3 linked regions of the Homo sapiens genome follow. The protein of the gene in region 1 purifies or fractionates together with the protein of each later gene. This does not show direct contact. Each region holds a gene or a part of one and is shown in the gene's direction. Other genes may lie near its edges. The genes, in order: MAP7D3, GSTCD and SYAP1.

Region 1 (4,239 bases):
CAGAGCCCAAATTCAATTCCAGATACATCTGGCTCCAAACTTTACTTTTGTTCACATTGGTTAATGTTATCTCATAAAGTTGGGCAAGAAGACATTTATTGAGTGATTGCTATATACCAGGCATTTTATATTACCTATTTCAATTATCATCACAACTGTGAGTGTGACAGTAATATCCTCATTTTATTATTTTTTTATTTTTCATTTTTTTTTTAAGAGTTGAGGTTTCACCATGTTGGCCAGGCTGGTCTTGAACCTCCTTGGCTCAAGTGATCTGCCCACCTCGGCCTCCCAAAGTGCTGGGATTACAGGCGTAAGCCACCACACCCGGCCATAATATGCTCATTGTCAATGTAAGGAAACAAGGTCAAAAGTTAGGTCAGGAGAGCAGGAACTGATTCATGGAAAGGAATGCTACATGGGCAATTGCCTGAGAAGACATTCACCTGCAAGGCCCACAGGAACAGGAGTCTGCTGAGAGGTGTGATGATGTGGAAGGAGCATTAGAGCTAGAGGACCTGTACCAATTCTGTTACTACACCTCACTGGCCGCATCCTTGACCAATGTAAGGGAGGGGCATGGTTTCTGGAGTCCTGCGTGCTTAGCTGCTCCTACTCCTGGTGCTTCCGTGGGACCTAGGGCTTTCTGGAATACAGTTTGAAAATCAGTGTGTCCTGTGATCTCTAGGGTTCCTTTCAGTCATCCTGTTCTATGATTCTGAAATGTTTTTTAATTCCAAGGCATTTCTTAGAAGTTAATTAAAGGACAAAGCTTCTTTTAGGCCAGAGCCTTGGTTTGGGAATAATTGGGATTCTAACCAAACTGTCTCTTTCCAGACCATCTTCCAAAAGAATGACCAGTCACACAACGAAAACCAGAAAGGCGGATGAAACCAACACCACCAGCAGATCCTCTGTTAGTATGAATTATGAGCAGCAGCGTATCTGTGACAAGATCACCAACATTGTTTAAGTCACACAGAACTATCTTTGTCACATTTTTCTCCTGACAGGCACAAACAAAATCTGAAGGATTCCATGACATCTTGCCAAAGTCCTCAGACACCTTTAGACAATAAGAGAAGAAGCAAACCTGTTTCTCCTCATTTGGGTAAGTCCTCATCTCATCTACCTTTTTCTTGAAAGGCAATTGACCCTGAACCCGCTCCCCTCCTTCTAGCCATTCCAGGGCAGTCTTTGCACCATATAGCTTTGGAAGAGAAGGAGAAGACAGTTGTGGGTCTGCAGGAATGATGTGAGAGTCTTCCATTAAGTTGGTTTTGAGAAAGTAGAGAGTAGATGACTTGATTCTAATTTTTATGTACCACATTTCAGGCCGGATATAAAAAATAAGTTCTGGCCAGGTGCAGTGGCTTACGCCTGTAATCCCAGCACTTTGGGAGGCCAAGGCGGGCAGATCACTTGAGGTCAGGAGTTTGAGACCAGCCTGGCCAACATGGTGAAACCCTGTCTCTACTAAAAATACAAAAATTAGCCGGGTGTGGTAATGCATGCCTGTAATCCCGGCTACTTTGGAGGCTGAGGCAGGAGAATCACTTGAACCCAGGAGGCGGAGGTTGCAGTGAGCCGAGATCCTGCCACTGCACTCTAGCCTGGGTGACAGAACAAGACTCTGTCTCAAAAAAAAAAATGATCTTTTCAAGCTTGCATCTCAGACTCCTCTGAGCTCCTGGTCTGCTGGTTGCTTGGCAAGCACACAGACAGTTGCTTAGGGCAGAAGATTAGGGAGGTCTTCGGAATAAGCCTCAACCTGTTTCCAAAACCAGAAGCCTCTTGTTTTTCTTTCCTTGAGAAGTTCTCTTTGAAATTGAGAAGCACCTTGGGCCTGGTTGGGGACTGGGGAAGTGAAGGACATTTATAGGACCAGTGTGTCAGCAACTCCAGAGGGGCTGCTGAGAGTCCTGGGCGTGTGCCCTGAAGGGAGGCCAGGGACAAGTTGCTGTGAGACTAGCATCTTCTCTACTGATCTTTCTTTTACTTTTCCCTCTGGTCAGATATGTAAACCTTACTCAGCCTGGGAGATGAATACATCTTCCACTCTGGATAACTCAACTCCTGGGCCCATCAGTCCTCAAATTTTTCTGCTTCTGACTTGAACCTGGTAAAGGAAGTGACACCGAAAAATTGAAAGAAACTGTCAAAAGGCCACTTTGATGTATATCTCAGATGTTAAAGTCATCTTATTCTCTTGTGTCTAAGCAAGAGTTCTAAGTAAAGAGTGGTTTTTGTTTTCTTTGGAAAATCATCATTGTCTCTCATTCTTGTGTTGTCCCACCAATGTGTTTGCTGGAGTGAGTGCATCAAGGATGCTTTCCTGAAACTGTAACTGTGGAGTTTCTAGAAGAATCTGATTGCAGAACTAATTCTCTTTCAGTATATATTTGAAATCTTAAAGTAATGCTTTTTCTTTTTCTTTTTCTTTTTTTTTTTTTTGAGACGGAGTCTTGCCCTGTCGCCCAGGCTGCAGTGCAGTGGCACAATCTCGGCTCACTGCAACCTCCGCCTCCTCATCTCAAGCAATTCTCCTGTCTCAGCCTCCCCAGTAGCTGGGATTACAGGCATGTGCCACCACACCTGGCTAATTTTTTTGTATTTTAGTAGAGATAGGGTTTTACCATGTTCACCAGGCTAGTCTCGAAATCCTGGCCTCAAGAGATCCACCCGTCTTGGCCTCCCAAAGTGTTGGGATTACAGGTGTGAGCCACTGCACCCAGCCAAGTAATGCTTTTTCTGTGTACCAGTGACAATTTTGACAGCTAAAAACTCACAGTTGATCTTGTAGAGAACAGAATAGATTATGCAAGGGCCGCAGGATCGCTCACAAGAGCTGTCAGATTGTTTCTAATATAAAAATACCAAAGGTTGCAAAATCCAGCAAATTGTATTTTACTGTGATATATGTATATTTTTAACTCTACCCATCTGTGCCAGTGAGTACACAGGCACTAATAACCTGAAATGCTGGGAGTCCTGTAAAGCCCCATCTTGGAACAGTCAGCACCTTTCATGCTCTTGTCAGTGTTTCCTTTTGAAGGACATATTGGTGTTTATCTACAGAAACATATATTATTTTTATTGTGTACATAAAGGAGTATATGGCTGTTGTCCCGTGGGGTATGTTTAATTCCTCTAAATGTTTAAAGTACTTTTCTGCCTGTACTCTCCAGTTCTGTCGTTGAGTATACACTCAGGCTTGAGATACAACCAAAATTTGCTTGCCTTTCTCTAGCCACTGGCTGCCAGTGAGTTCGTGTGATGGGCACACAGAAATGCACACAGATGTACATACACGTATGTATGCACACACAGTATATGATTCCATAAAATTCAAATGCAGATTAATTCTCCTAATGAGTTTTCAGTGTTGAATCGTAAATAGTCTGAAGCAGGCCAGTGTTCCTTTTGGCTGCCAGTCTTGGATTAGTAAAAGGAGGTAATTCTTTCAGATTCCCTGGTTCTTTGCCACTCAGAGTATTGTACTTTTGATATAGAATAGAGAAGGTTACCTTTGGTTTAAAAACTATTTTTATATACTAGCTCTTTCATGTATAAAACAGAGACAATCATCCTAACAAAAGAGTTCCTGTTATTTTTCTGCACAAATGTCTTGTGTTGAAACACTGTTACAGTTCCATATAAATGTGTGCTATATAAAATAAACTTTGGAGATAAAACAAGGGTTTTTTCATTATAATACTAAAAAAAGTGTACTGGTGGTGGTATAAAGGCAACACCAATTGTTGGCTGAGCTATGAACACAGGCAGCCAGCAAATTGAATGAACAGGGATCAAATCCCCTGATTTCCCTCTTCATCCAGTTGGTGATTTGGCAGAGTTCCACTTCTGGAATAGAAAGATGTGAGTTTTTTTGTTTGTTTGTTTGTTTTAGAGACAAGGTCTCACTCTGTGGCCAAGGCTGGAGTACAGTGGCACGATCATAGCTCACTGCAGCCTCAAACTCTGAGGTTCATGCAATCCTCCCACCTTAGCCTCCTGAGTAGCTGGGACCACAGTCATGGCACCATACCTGGCTTTTTTTTTTTTCTCTTCGTCTTCTTTCTTCTTTCTTCTTTCTTCTTCTTCTTCTTTCTTCTTCTCTTTTTTTCTTTTTTTTTTTTTTTTTTTTTTAGAGATAGGGTCTTGCTATGTTGCCTAGGCTGGTCTTGCACTCCTGGCCTCAAGTGATCTTCCTGCCTCAGCCTCCAAAAGTGCTGGGAT
Region 2 (3,652 bases), on another chromosome or scaffold:
TAAGTCTTAATTTATAAAGTTTGGAGACATTTTTAGAAAATAACTCTTTTTTCTTTATTTTAGTTATGTTGATTTTTAAATGGAATGTTTACATATAAATAGGAGCTCAAATAGCAATGCTTTGGAAGCCCTGCTTATTGTGGGGGCTAGGAGGAGGGTAGGACAGGGGAGGTATATTGTAAAGGCTTTGGGAAGTAATGATTTATTTAGTAAGGGGAATACAGGAATGCTAAACTTCTTTTGCTTAATGTTTTTACTTCTGAAGCACTGTGATGTGTCTCCTGATACAACATAAAAGCCTAGCCCAGGGATGATTGAGCTCAAAACTTATTTCCCAATAAGACAGTTATTTTTTCTAAAGTTATATTGAAATTAAAAAATCTTTTCATTTCTTGTTTTGTTTTTGTTTTGTAGGTTAGTCAGTGGACCAGGCTATGTGAACTCACCATCCCTTTGGCTATTGAGAATTTTCTCAGAGAATCTTCTGACCAGCCCCCAACTATACCTGTAGAAATACTACAGCTAGAGAAAAAGCTTAGTGAGCCTGTTAGAGTGCATAATGATGATAAACTCCGCAGGCAGAAGCTCAAGCAACAGAAGGCTGATGGAGTTGGGCCTCCCCTTACTAAGGGAAAGGCAAAGAGCAAGGTCCACACACAGGAAACATCTGAAGGGTTGGATTCTTCATCCAAGAGTCTGGAACTGAAAGTGGCATTCTCAAAGCTCACAGTACAGGAAGAACCAGCTACTACCAACAGAGAGCCTTCTCACATCAGAAAAGCAAAAGCCTCCGACCTTCCACCTCTGGAGCATGTGTTTGCAGAAGGGCTTTACTTCACTCTGGCAGATATTGTGCTCTTGCCCTGTATCCATCATTTCTTGGTAAGGTTTCATCTGGACTGTACACATTACTATGAGTTTCAGTCTATGAAATTGCCTAGGTTTGAATTTCTGTTTTACTTTTTATTGTCAATATGCTGCTAGGAAAGTTATTAATATCTTTCTCCATTTTCTTATCTGTAAAATGGTGATAATAATAGTACCTATCTAAAAGGAAAAATGTAAGGAACAAATTAAAGTTTGTGTGAAGTATGGAGAACAGTGCTTGGCACATAGTAAGCTCTCAATCAAAGTTAGTAATTACTATGACTTTTAATGTGAAGTTGCTAAAATGTTAACAATTGTTATTATTAATTTCAAGTTTCTGTTGTGATTACTTTCTAATAGTAGAAGGTCCAAGTCGGCTCTGTGGTGCAATGGATACTCCGTTGGACGTCTACTATTAGAGGGTGCAGTTAAAAAAAAAAAAACTAAAAATCTTGTCAGCTAAATTTTATAATGAATTGTTAGTCACTTAAATTAATCTTATGTTAGGTATTATCAAACTGAAAATATTTTATTCTGACCTGTGTGCTTTTCTCTGTTCTCTCTGAGAGTAAAGTAGCTGGCTCTGTTATTATGTGCTGGGGGAGAATAGATAGAACGTTTTCTGAGTAGGAAGATCTCTCTCTCTCTCTCTCTGTCTGTCTTACATACACACACTCACACACGCACACACGTGTGCACACACACATTCCCTCTGTGGAGGAAAAAAGAACAGGGTGAAAATAATACCAGAGTGAACATAGGAAGCTTAGCTCTCTGCAGCCTTCCAATTGGTTTTCAAGAGCTGCATTGCTTTTTGCTTTTGTTTGGGTTTTTTTCTTGGAAGCATTTCCCCCTTTTCCCTACTAAGGAATCAGATATTAGATTTCATTCTCATTATATATCACCAACAATTCAGGTATCTCTATGGACAGAAGAGACTGCTATCGAAAATCTATGTATTTGAAGGCTTTGCTTCACAAGTAAACTCGGCAGTATTCATCAATTGTCATTTTCTTAAAGAACATTTCTCTTTTCCTCAAAATTGAACCAAATTTGGCAACCAAAACAATATAAAAAGAGAGAGATCCAGGAATTGTTTAGATGTTGATTGCTATTTTAAATGCCAGATGTCATATGTCTTCACAGAGTCCATGGAGTTGAGTGGGAAGAAGACATTGATTTTTAAATTTTTTCCTAGTCAGATGATTCCTAGGTTCTCTTCTCCATGATCCCTCTCTTCTATTACCAAGTTCCGTCATTAGAGCAGTCATTTGATACATTATGAAGTACTTGGTCTTCTGTCTTCTTGACTTCTTTGGATAACTGTGTTTCCAGTTTCACCAGAATTGAATGAAAGTGGCATATCCATTCCTTTATTGAAGAAATTTATTAAAATTATTTGAATACATAAACTAATTCTCAAAATATTTTCCTTCGTTCCTTTGTATTTTTACTGGATTTTTTTTTCTTTTTTTTTTGAGATGGAGTCTCGCTCTGTCACCTAGGCTGTGTGCAGTGGTGTAATCGCAGCTCACTGCAACCTCCGCTTCCTGGGTTGAAGCAATTCTCCTGCCTCAGCCTCCCAAGTAGCTGGGATTATAGGTGCACGCCACCATGCCTGGCTAATTTTTGTATTTTTTAAGTAGAGATGGGGTTTCACCATGTTGGCCAGGCTGCTTTCGAACTCCTGACCTTGTGATCCGCCCACCTCATGTTTTCCAGAATTCATCCTTCTTTGATAAACCCTTGATATTTGTTATATTTTTCTCTTTAAATCATCTTGGGTAATAAAGTAGTCATTTTAATTCATATAGTGGTTATGTTGGCAAGCCTTTTTGCTTGCATTAACATACATTGAGGTGAATGGAGTGGCCATCCAAATGATCAGAATCAGGATCAAGTTCAACATCCGTAATCAAGGTCAAGTTACCAGAAACATAAAACTGAATCTAGGGACAGAATATTTAGTCGCAGGAATAAAGTCAAGGACATAAAAGTAAGAGTCAATTTTGCTAAATCAAGGTTTGAATTACTAAGGGTCAAAATTAGAAGAACTAGGGAAAATACCCAGTTCTGCTAAACAGAATAAAACCAAAGATGGAAAACAATAACAAGTAGAATCGATGAGGTGTTTTTTTTGTTTTTTTTTAATTTGTCAGAGACAAACATGGAAATGCTAAGGTATTATATATAAACCTGCTGCAAGCTCTTCCTTTTCAGAAAATACTTTATTACTTTACAAAGTTAACCCCTGATGGCTCAGCACCTCATAAGGAAAGGGGCCTGACGATACCCTCTCCTCTGAAAAGTCTTAGAAATAGATTTAAAAGGAATAAATTAATATGTACACTCATGTTTCCCCCCATTCAATTTATTTGCTAGAATTTTCTAGTAGATAGCGTATCAACATTATGGGAGAAATAGCAATGAATAGCTATACTAGGGCAAAATCCTACTGTTCCAATACTAGAAGATTGTATATTATTTTTCAGTTGCTACTAGTAAGCAAGTACACTTTGACAGAAATATTTAAAACATTATTGTACGCCTATAAGACAGAAAGTTGCATTTTATCATTTTATAAAATCTTGTAATTTGACCACTTATGATTTAATTTTCTACATTTTAACTTCTAATGCTTTGAATTGAGTTTAAATACACACATACACACACACACACAGACATCTTTATTAGCTTAGGTAAAATCATTCCTCTTTTAGAAATTGATTTTTTAGCAAAACTAAATACCTCTTCCTGTGTTCCCATCGGCATAAAGTTGGGAACC
Region 3 (3,652 bases), about 120 Mb from region 1:
TCAGGTTGAACTGCACTTCAATCTTTTTATCAAGCATTTCCCACCCCATTGCTAACTCTTACTGGTTACTAGTTATTAGCAAGCTGCCAAACATTCTCTTTCATAAGGAACAACAGCCACAATGCTTGCTTCTCACTGCTGGAAGGCATTTAATCCTCTTGAGAAACAGCAAGTGATTGGTGGAGTCCTGGCTCTGCTTCTGGTTTCCCAGGTTGATTATGCTAGTTTCACAACAATGCCATGTTTTCTTCTACCGAGAGCAGTATTGGTATCATTAAGATACCAAGAAATGCTGAGGTTTCATTGGTATTCTGTAACTTGTATTTTGCTGCTACGGGGAAGATAGCTGTTAGGTTTATCCTGTTGTTAGCTTTCAATTCTAAAGTGAATATGGGCTGGGTGCGGTGGCTCACGCCTGTAATCCCAGCACTTTGGGAGGCCGAGGCGGGCAGATCATGAGGTCAGGAGTTTGAGACCAGCCAGGCCAACATTGTGAAACCCCGTCTCTACTAAAAATACAAAAATTAGCTGTGCATGGTGGCGGGCACCTATAATCCCAGCAACTCGGGAGGCTGAGGCAAGAGAATTGCTGGAACCCAGGAGGCGGAGGTTGCAGTCAGCTGAGATCACACCACTGCACTCCAACCTGGGCAACAGAGCAAGACTCCGTGTCAAAAAAAAAAAATTGTTAAAGCCAATATGAACCCCCTCTGAACCTCACTCAGCTTTGAAAGTGCTCTTGCAAATCATCTACTCCAGTCCCCTTTACAACAAATAACCCCTGCGTGCACTTGTCTGTGTGCGTTCTCAAATGTGTTCTTGTCTGTCTGCTTTTTATTGATTTTCAATTTTGCCTTTTTCCACTGTTCTAATTTGCCTTTCTTTAAAAGTGTGAAGGAAGAAGTGTTCTGGAGGAACTACTTTTACCGCGTCTCCCTGATTAAGCAGTCAGCCCAGCTCACGGCCCTGGCTGCCCAACAGCAGGCCGCAGGGAAGGAGGAGAAGAGCAATGGCAGAGAGCAAGATTTGCCGCTGGCAGGTATATTCTGGGTAGAAGACAGCACTCTACAGAAAAAGTTGTTCTTAGAGACTCAAATGAGCTTGACCTCTTATACGTACCAGAAATGTCATTGCCTTAGGGAAAAATTCTTTTCTTCCCAGAGGAAATCTTCATTTTTCTCTTACTGCCTTCTCTCTGACCCAGCTCACACATGTCTTCCCCAAGCTTTCCTTTACTTTGCTTATCTCCTTTCTCATTCCTTGTTTTCGTTTTTGTTTTTTTTTTTAGACACGGGTCTCACTATGTTGCCCAGGCTGTCCTCAAACTCCTAGACTCAAGCGATCCTCCTGCCTCAGCTTCCCAAGTAGCTGGGACTTACAGGCATGAGCCACTGTGCCTGGCGAGTTTTTTTTTCGTTTTATTTCTCTCTCAAACATCCGTCATCTTCCCCCCCTCTCATTTTTGGCCCTTAACCATGTGATTCTTTATACTTCTGTCCTCTACCCTGATTCAGTCCGCCTCCTTTTTGTTTGTTTCAACCTGATGTTTCTCCAGTGTGTGTAGTCTGTAGAGCAGAACAAAGCTCCATTCCACTCCCAAGTTACAAGGATCTATCTAGTTCTGAGCTAGGCACTGATGAACATTGGACTCATTGTGACACTAACTTACCCCTGGTTGTGGGAATGTGTTTTATAATAAGGGCAGCTGTTTGAAATCTGTAATAATTAAAATAAGAAACACATTTTGTGTCATAGTTTAAATTCTTAGTGAGTACCTGCTGTGTATAGTAGGTACTCATTACAACTGGACATTTATCCCACAAGAAGCGGGGTGATTTAATTCACGGAATTTTAAATGATTAAGCAAAACAGCATGTCCTGAGGTACAGGTTATACAGAATACTAGGACAGGATCTGACACTGCTGTTAGTGTCAGGGAAATGGAGTGAAGTTGCTCTACACAGGAAAATTTGTCATTTTGTATATCAGTGTTAACATGCATCCCAATTGTCTGTTATTCTTTAGCATTTATGTTAATTTTGTTGGAAAATGCCATTTTGCCAAATACTGCCTTGTTTAACAAAATGGATTTATGACAGTATTCCATAAAGACTGCCTTTTTCTAGCACTCTTATCAGCAGGCAAACTTGATAAATAGCTTAATTCTCATTATTCTAAAAAAGTACAGAACTATTCTTCAATGAATTTTGCTAACACTGTAGTTAAAAATTATTTCCTGCTGGAAATTTTATGTAAGGATATGTATTGAATATGATGACATGTTAAAAATATCCCCAGGAGGCTGAGGCAGGAGGATCACTTGAGCCCAGAAGTTCGAGTCCAGCCTGGGCAACATAGTGACACCCCATGTCTAAAAATAAATAAATGGATAGGTAGATAGATAGATAAAAATATCCCCAAAGTAAGAGGTTGAGATGGTTTCACCATGGCTGTTTCTTATAACTTAAGAAAAGCTGAAAGCATAACATAAAAATTCATTTCTGAAAATTATTTAGTATCATAATACTTGTGGATATTTTACTGTGATTATAATATGTATTCAGAACTGAACCAAGCAATTATTGTCTCTCTTATTCTCACTTCTTAGAGGCAGTACGGCCCAAAACGCCACCCGTTGTAATCAAATCTCAGCTTAAAACTCAAGAGGTAATCCAGTTTTACATTGTACCTAGTAGTTGATATCTGGAAATAAAGTAACTGTGTTAACTCTTTCTGATACCATTTAAAACTATGTATGAATATGGGTTTGGAAGAAGCAGCATCTGGTACTTGAATAGTCAAGGAACTAGGGCTGAGACTTGAGGACGATTTACTGGCATATGTAATTCTAGATGTGTTCATCAGGGATTGGAGAGAAGGGTTGGAGTGATTCAAACTGTGAAGGAGAATAATAGCCTCAGGTGGTAACTCATGTAGTTACCAAGCAACTGCAAGTTAGAAGGTTGGAGAGCAGTGCTCATTGTCTTACAGCTCGCAGAGAAAAGAAATAAAAATAGCACGGCATTAAATTGTGAGACAATAGCAAACCAGAATAACACAAATGTCGCTTAGCAAACCATTTCAAGAGCTCATTTGTTGCATTTCAGGATGAGGAAGAAATTTCTACTAGCCCAGGTGTTTCTGAGTTTGTCAGTGATGCCTTCGATGCCTGTAACCTAAATCAGGAAGATCTAAGGAAAGAAATGGAGCAACTAGTGCTTGACAAAAAGCAAGAGGAGACAGCCGTACTGGAAGGTAAAAAACAAAACAAATCAAAGCAAAGAAACTATTCGTCTCCCTAATTCCAAAGCTAATTGTAGAAAATTGTTATTCTGAAGCCAGTGCACAAAAATGTGTTGTAAATTTTGCATCAAAATTGATTCTTGTCAGAGGCAATGGCTCACGCTTGTAATCCTAGCACTTTGGGAGGCCGAGGCGGGCAGATCACGAGGTCAGGAGATCGAGACCATCCTGGCTAACACGGTGAAACCCCGTCTCTACTAAAAATACAAAAAAAAATTAGCCGGGCCTGGTGGTGGGTGCCTGTAGTCCCAGCTATTCGGAAGGCTGAGGCAGGAGAATGGCATGAACCTGGGAGGCGGAGCTTGCAGTGAGCCGAGATCGCGTCACTGCACTCCAGCCTGGGTGACAG

What was found.
Region 2: the proteins of MAP7D3 (region 1) and GSTCD fractionate together in Homo sapiens (co-fractionation; one large-scale study listed by BioGRID). This does not show direct contact.
Region 3: the proteins of MAP7D3 (region 1) and SYAP1 purify together in Homo sapiens (co-immunoprecipitation; one large-scale study listed by IntAct). This does not show direct contact.

What each region holds. Positions count from the first base shown.
Region 1 is NC_000023.11:136,216,270-136,220,508, reverse strand, and holds the end of MAP7D3 (MAP7 domain-containing protein 3), read left to right. Parts: intron 1-837; coding exon 838-916; intron 917-1,013; coding exon 1,014-1,079; 3' UTR 1,080-1,111; intron 1,112-2,015; 3' UTR 2,016-3,695; downstream 3,696-4,239. UniProt on the Homo sapiens protein: Promotes the assembly and stability of microtubules.
Region 2 is NC_000004.12:105,718,646-105,722,297, forward strand, and holds part of GSTCD (glutathione S-transferase C-terminal domain-containing protein), read left to right. Parts: intron 1-414; coding exon 415-882; intron 883-3,652.
Region 3 is NC_000023.11:16,754,055-16,757,706, forward strand, and holds part of SYAP1 (synapse-associated protein 1), read left to right. Parts: intron 1-890; coding exon 891-1,039; intron 1,040-2,608; coding exon 2,609-2,667; intron 2,668-3,107; coding exon 3,108-3,255; intron 3,256-3,652.